Linked DNA regions of Homo sapiens. The protein of the gene in region 2 interacts with the protein of the main gene of each other region in a pairwise test. Each region holds a gene or a part of one and is shown on either strand. Other genes may lie near its edges. The genes, in order: RNF125 and BHLHA9.

The links.
Region 1: the proteins of BHLHA9 (region 2) and RNF125 interact in a two-hybrid assay, tested with the Homo sapiens proteins (one large-scale study listed by BioGRID).

What each region holds. Positions count from the first base shown.
Region 1 is NC_000018.10:32,035,587-32,039,397, reverse strand, and holds part of RNF125 (E3 ubiquitin-protein ligase RNF125), read right to left. Parts: intron 2,283-3,811; coding exon 2,129-2,282; intron 1-2,128. UniProt on the Homo sapiens protein: E3 ubiquitin-protein ligase that mediates ubiquitination and subsequent proteasomal degradation of target proteins, such as RIGI, MAVS/IPS1, IFIH1/MDA5, JAK1 and p53/TP53.
Region 2 is NC_000017.11:1,269,044-1,272,613, reverse strand, and holds BHLHA9 (class A basic helix-loop-helix protein 9), read right to left. Parts: upstream 2,171-3,570; 5' UTR 2,051-2,170; coding exon 1,343-2,050; 3' UTR 799-1,342; downstream 1-798. UniProt on the Homo sapiens protein: Transcription factor, which play a role in limb development. Is an essential player in the regulatory network governing transcription of genes implicated in limb morphogenesis.

The DNA.
Region 1 (3,811 bases), on a different chromosome or scaffold from region 2:
TGTTGAGAGAGTCTTGCTATGTTGCCCAAGCTGGAGTGCAGTGGCACGATCATAGTTTACTGCAGCCTTGATCTCCTGGGCTCAAGCGCTCTTCCTACTCAGCCTCTGGAGTATCTAGGACTACAGGCGTATACCACTATGCCCCAGCTAATTTTTTTGATTTTTAGTAGAGACAAGGTCTCTTCCCAGGTTGGTCTTGAACTCCTGAGCTCAAGCAATCCTCCCGCCTCGGGCTCCCAAAGTGCTGGGATTACAGGCATGAGCCACTGCGCCTGGCCTCCAAACCATTTTCTATGTGTATGTTAGAGTGATATCTTAAAGATACAATCCTGGGCTGGGCATGGTGGCTCATGCCTGTAATCCCAGCACTTTGGGAGTCCGAGGCGGGCAGATCGCCTGAGGTCAGGAGTTCAAGACCAGACTGGCCAACATGGTGAAACTGTGTCTCTACTGAAAATACAAAAGTTAGACAGGCGTGGTGTTGGGCCCCTGTAATCCCAGCTACTCGGGAGGCTGAGGCATGAAAATCGCTTAAACCCAGAAGGTGGAGGCTGCAGTGAGCTGAGATCGCACCACTGCACACCAGCCTGGGCAACAGAGTGCGACTCTGTCTCAAATAAAAATAAAAATAAAGATATAAGCCCGATCTTGGCACTCCAAAACTTACTCTCTTTCTCTGGCTTACTATTGCATTTAAGATAAAATCTAGAATCTTCTACATAACCTTCAAGACCTCACATGATCTGGGGAAGCTGATATAGTACCCAAGTTGAAAACTGCAACAGGCAAGGTGTGCTTGATAGAGACAAATACTGCAAAGTCCAGATCAATACAGGTGGAAATATGTCACTGGGTTTGATAATAAAGCTATTCATTAGTGGTCTGCAACAGAGTAGCAGAACTGGAGGACATATCATAGAGGATCACTGGAGTAATGGGAAGAAGGGAAAATGGAGGTGGTCAATGAAAGCATTTGTTTGACAAATTACGGGTGATGGTAGAAGTTCAGGGTTTTCTGCAGATGATATATGTACATATATGAAATTGGAGGCTGGGTGAGATGGCTCACGCCTGTAATCCCAGCACTTTGGAGGCCAAGGTGGGCAGATCACTTGAAGCCAGGAGTTTGAGAACAGCCTGGCCAACATAGCAAAACCCTCTCTCTACTAAAAAGACAAAAAATTAGCCAGACATTGTGGCACATGCCTGTAGTCCCAGCTACTCGGGAAGCTGAGGCATTAGAATCACTTGAACCTGAGAGGCGGAGCTTGCAGTGGGCCGAGATGGCGCCACTACACTGCAGCCTGGGCGACAGAGCAAGACTCTGTCTCAAAAAAAAAAAAAAAAAAAAAAATGGCACGGACCCAAAGAGTGAGTGGTAGCAAGGTTTCTTGTGAAGAGCAAAAGGACAAAGCTCCCACAACATGGAAGGGGACCCAAGCCGGTTGTCACTGCTAGCTGGGGTGGCCAGCTTTTATTCCCTTATCGTCCCCGCCCATGTTCCGTTTCTGTCCTATCAGAGTGCAGTTTTTCCAATCCTCCCTGCGATTGGCTACTTTCAGAATCCTGCTGATTGGTGCGTTTTACAGAGTGCTGATTGGTGCACTTTACAGAGCACTGATTGATGCGTTTTACAGAGCACTGATTGGTGCATTTTACAGAGCGCTAATTGGTGTGTTTTACAATCCTCTTGTAAGACAGGAAGGTTTCCCAAGTCCCCACTCTACCCGGGAAGTCCAGCTGGCCTCACATCTCACCAGCACTTTGGGAGGCCGAGGCAGGCGGGTAATGAGGTCAGGAGATTGAGACCATCCTGGCTAACATAGTGAAACCGTGTCTCTACTAAAAATACAAAAAATTAGCCAGGCGTGATGGCAGGTGCCTGTAGACCCAGCTACTCGAGAAGCTGCGGGCAGGAGAATCACTTGAACCTGGGAGGCGGAGGTTGCAGTAAGCCGAGATCGCACCACTGCACTCCAACCTGGGTGAAAGAGCGAGAACCTGTCTCAAAAAAAAAAAAAAAAAAAAAAAAAGGTGCGTACCATGGGGTCAGAAGCAGAGGTGAAATGATAACTTTCGCAGGGACTTAAGCTGGTAACCATGAAAATAGGTGGGGTCACATACATACCAGGGTGTCACACTCAGCGCAGTTCTTATACTCTGATTTCATTCTTTTGGCTACATCAGTTGCTGGAACTCCTTCTGAAGGAAGATATGCCCGGCAATAAGGACAGGTCCACTTGTTGTTCTTTAGACTGGTAGCAATACAGGAACGGCAGAATCTACCCCAAACAGACCAAAAATACATCACTTTCCTTGAAAGCTATAAGGAGCCACCACCATGTATTCATTTGTGTAAACTGTAATTTAATGACACCTCGTACCCCATGAGCCATACTACCAAATTACAGGTCCACTTGCACCCTGCACTTCCCGAGAATTGCTTACCTTCCCAGCAAGACTTCTTTAGAATCACACATTCTTACCACATGCACTTTCACACATTTCAAGAAAAGTAAGAATTCAAAGTGGGTGAAATAGCTTTCCTATAGGCTAAGTTTAAACGATACTTTAAAGAATGTCTAAATTGGATTTTACCTCAAATTTCTTGAGAAAATATGTCTTTCTTCTGTGGGGTTTTGTGTGTCACATAAGAAAATAGCAGGAAGTCAAGGAAGTAAAAATACCAGACACATTATAATTCCCTATAAAACCATTTTCTCCTTCCCTCCCTTCCTCCCTCCCCTCCCCTCTCCCCTCCCTCCCTCCCCTCTCCCCTCCCTCCTTCCCTCCCTCCCTTCTTCCTTCCTTCCTTTCCTTCCTTCCTTCCTTCCTTCCTTTCTGGTCAAGAAATATGTTCTCTGGTTTATTTAAAGGTGCTCATTATGAAATCTTAACATAATCAACATTTCCAGAAAATTCTGACCTATTTATAGGAGTTGTTGAAGACTCCATAAACATAGAAATAAAAATGAGCATTTGGGTAATTTATACACATGAGCATGACCTGATGCCTCTTAAACTACTCAGCACATAATATCTATTTGGGAGTATTAATACATGTCCAAAGGTAGGCTTTTTAAATTTTAAGTATACTGTACATACTGGAAAGTTCTTATAAGCATATAGTTGAATGAAATTTCAAAACTGAACACATCCATATAACCAGTACCTATAACAAAAACAGCGTGGCCAGCCCCTAAAATTTCCCCTCTTGTTTCCTTCTCTTTTTTTTTTTTTTTTGAGATGGAGTCTTGCTCTTGTCACCCAGGCTGGAGTGCAATGACACGATCTCAGCTCACTGCAGCCTCCACCTCCTGGGTTCAAGCAATTCTCCTGACTCAGCCTCCCAAGTAGCTGGGATTACTGGCACCCACCACCACGCCTGGCCAATTTTTTGTGTTTTTAGTAGAGACAGGGTTTCACCATGTTGGTCAGGCTGGTCTCGAACTCCTGACCTCAGGTGATCCACCTGCCTCAGCCTCCCAAAGTGCTGGGATTACAGGCGTGAGCCACTGTGCCCGGCCTCCAGACACAATTCTATCCCCTCCAAAGTAATCACTGACTTTTTAAAATGTATTTTAACATATGAAAATTATACTTTTCAAACATTGTACCAGCCTATAGACTGCAGCTTTCTCATCCCTGCTTACCATCCTTGGTGGTGCTAATCATTGACTTCTAATAACAAAGATCAGTTTTGCCTGTTTCTGTACTTCCTATAAATGGAACCCTCTGGTATGTATTCTTGGTCTTCTTTAGCTCAATATTATGGTCAAAAGATTCATTATATTGTTGTATATAGTTGAGA
Region 2 (3,570 bases):
CTGGGTTTACGCCTAATGGCGTTTCTCTAGCTTCTGTGGGATCCGCACTCTGAGCTAGCTGTGGGGAACCCTTCCCTCTCCTGTTGGCAAGAGCCCAGCGCTCCCCCAGCACCTCTGGGCTCTGGCCCAGCAGGCAGCCCTTGCAATATTAGACCCTTACCCTGAGCCGGGCCAGACACCAGCTCATCTCAGATGCAGGGCAGCTCTCTGGACAAAACTCTCGGGGCAGCTGGCTGTGTCTCTCACTAGCTCAGCAGGCTTGGCCTGAGGCCCCTCTGCCCTCACTCAACCCCCTCCCCAGAATCCTTCCTGGGTTCCAAGTCGGCCCCTCATTATGGGGGCCCTGGCCCACGGTTCCCTGGGAGCTCTTCCTGCCTGTCGCTCGGGGTACATGCACGCAGGACTTACCGGCCCCCAATCCTAGCCCTGCCCTTGGCCTCCTTCCCTGAGACCTGGCCAGAGTCCCCCTTCACTGTGGCTGCTTCCAGGCAGCTCTGCAGGGAGGTCCAGAGACGGGGCTGACCCCATCCTTAGACTCCCAGGCCCCGTGACCCCTCTCCTGATATCCTCTTCCACCCCAGGGGACTCAGGGAGGAGGGGTCTCTGGATGTCTCTTTCCTCCCCTTGGGCTCCCACAGTGCTCAGCCACACCTGGGGTCTTGCCATGAATGAGTTCCCCCAGGCGCCTACCTGTGGGCCTTAGGCCCCGCCCAGCATTCCAAGGAGAGCCCCCAGCCCTCAGGCGTTCCTGCCACCCTGGGCCACGGGGCCCACTGGAGTCGTGGTATCGGAGAGAAATGAGTTTTTCCTTTTATTTGGCTGCTGCCCCTGCCTGCCTCTCCCGGATCCTGCCTCTCCCGGATCAGGCTTGGGCAGCAGCGCAGGCAGGGAAGGGGACTCCGCACTCATGTGCCCACGAGACCACAGCAGGCCCCACCCGCATTCCCACGCTCCCACACCTCCTGCCTCAAAGCCCTCACTCTCCTAAAAGCATCGAGAACACACAGGGCTCGGAGGCGCAGGAGTGCGAAGGCGGCATTCCAAGACGAGTTCGAGTCCAAGATGAGTTCAGGATCCTGAGCCTTTCTGGCAACTGCCTCCCTAGGCTGGGATGTGGGGGCGCAGCCCCAGGCCCCGGAGCTCCTTCTCTCTGCCCCAGGCTGGGATGTGGGGGCGCAACCCCGGGTCCCGGAGCTCCTTCTCTCTGGCGAGCTCCTTCTCTTCCACGCCAGGTCTCAGCCGGTCCAGTTCTGCTCTGTCCAAGACGCCTTTGCAGTCCCGGGTTTTATAGTCCAGCTGCCAGCCCGGCCTCCCTGCAGCCCAGCCGGTGCCTCGAGGCCGGTCAGGAGCGCGGATGGCCCATCCCGGGGGCGGATCGCAGGTAGCCCCGCGGCCAGGGAGGCGGCCCGGCAGAGGAAGCCCCCGGACAGCGGCGCCAGCTTCCCCCGGAGGCCTGTGCTAGGCCCGGCCCCTCGGCCACCGCACTGGGCCGTGCCAGGGGCGCGTGCGGGGGGCACGAGGCGCAGCGGGGCGCGGACGGCACCGAGGGGCGGGCGGCGTCTGGGCGCGCGAGGCTGGGCCCTGCAGGCGGCGGGGGGCTGGCGCCTGTGTCCCCGGTGTCCCCGCGCGCGGCCGGGCCGTGGCACTCCAGGTGTCCGCAGGGCCCGCGGGGCGCGGGGCTGGCGCGCAGGACCAGGGAGAGCGCGGCGATGCGGTGGATGGCCCTGCGCAGCGTGGCGATCTTGGAGAGCCTCTTGCCGCCCAGGTCGTGCCGCAGCGCCCGGCGCAGCGCGTTGAAGGCCTCGTTGTAGTCTAGGATGCGCTTGCGCTCCCGCACGTTGGCGGCCATGCGCCGCGCCTTGGACCGCACCGGCCGCGCGCGCCTCCTGCCCGCCGGCTCCTCCGCCTCGCCCCGGCTGCAGGAAGCGCCGTTCGCCCCCAGCACCCCCGAATCGCCCCCGGGCTCGGGGCAGGGGCCCCCCAAGTCCTCCGCAGAGTCCTCGGCCCCCTTCCGCGCCGTGAGGCCTAGTCCTGGCGCGCCCCGCAGCATGGCCTTCCCGGGCACTCGCCCTCTGCCCCAGCCCCGGCCCTCTGCCCTCTGCCCTCTGCCCACTGCCTTGGCCCGGCTCGCGACGCGGACGGTCCCCGGCTCCTGGGGCTGGACACTCCCGAGACAGGCCCCTTCCAGCTGGGCTTTATGGCACCACGCGGCGCCCCGCCCTCCCGTCCATCCATCTCCCTCCTCCTGCTTTATTATCGGCCTCCAGGTAGGTCGGCGGGGGAGGAACCGAGGGGAAGAAGGAAAGCAAGGAGGGAAGCTTGCAGGTTCTTGTAAGCGGGGACCAGACGGGCAGCCCGGCCACGCTGCCCCGGGGACCTTGCCCTGCCTAGCTCTGGGGCCGCTGTGGGGTGTCTGGGTTCCACATTCTTCCTCCCCATTCCCAGATAAGGTGCTAAGTTTGGCTTCTAGCAGGAGAGCTGATAGGAATAAAAAGAGGCAGAGGGCCGGGCACTGGGGCTCACGCCTGTCATCCCAGCAGTTTGGGAGGCCGAGGCGGGCGGATCACTTGAGTTCAGGAGTTCGAGACCAGCCTGGCCAACAGAGTATATAAAACCCCGTCTACTAAAAACACAAAAATTAGCCGGGCGTGGTGGCAGGCGCCTGTAATCCCAGTTACTCGGGAGGCTGAGGCAGGAGAATGGCTTGAGCCCAGGAGCTGGAGGTTGCAGTGAGCCGAGATCGCACCACTGCACTCTAGCCTGGGAGACAGAACGAGACTCCGTCTCAGAAAAACAACAACAAAAACAACAACAAAACCTTGAAAGTTCTTGTCAAGTCCCGTGGGCAACCACAGAGATGTCACTGAGGAAAAGCATGAGTGTCCCGGCAGGACTCATATGGGAGGCGCAGGGCCCTGCAGGTAAAGCTGACCCAGAGCTTCCGGCTTTTTCAGCTATGGAGGGCGGCTGGCTGCAATTGGGGTTCGGGTTTTGGTTGGGCCTGACTCTCCCTCCACTGCCCTTTGACTCCCCTTCTGCAGGCAGAGCTGGGATGAGTCAGCAGCAGAGGGTGACGGGGAAGATCCCTTTGCAGCCCTGGGTCCACATCAGGGGCATCTTTGGGGTCCAGAGCCCTCGGGCAGCCCCATCTTGTGACACAGCCCTGCCAGGTTATGAACTCAATGAGCAGCCTCTGTCCTCTTCCCCCAGGGATTTGCATTTGAAAGAGGGTCTCAGAAAAAAGATGATGTTTATTCCCAAAGAAAGACCCCCAGTAGAATTTCCGGCATCCACAGCTGAGTTATTTGGAGCGCCTGAAGGCCACTCATTCCCAGTCACAATCCAAATGCCTCTAAGATGCCAAGGCCTATGGCATTGGAATGGGTGTGTGGTTCACATCCATCTCGCCAAAAGAGCATTGCCAATAACCCCATTATTTCAAACTGTGAATTTCTCCATAAAAGAAAATAATAAGGCATTAGGAAGCAGAGTGTATGTATTTACTTCTGTGATTGTCTGCCTTGCCCACTAGGATGAAAGCATCCTAAGGACATCTGTATTTCCCAGGTT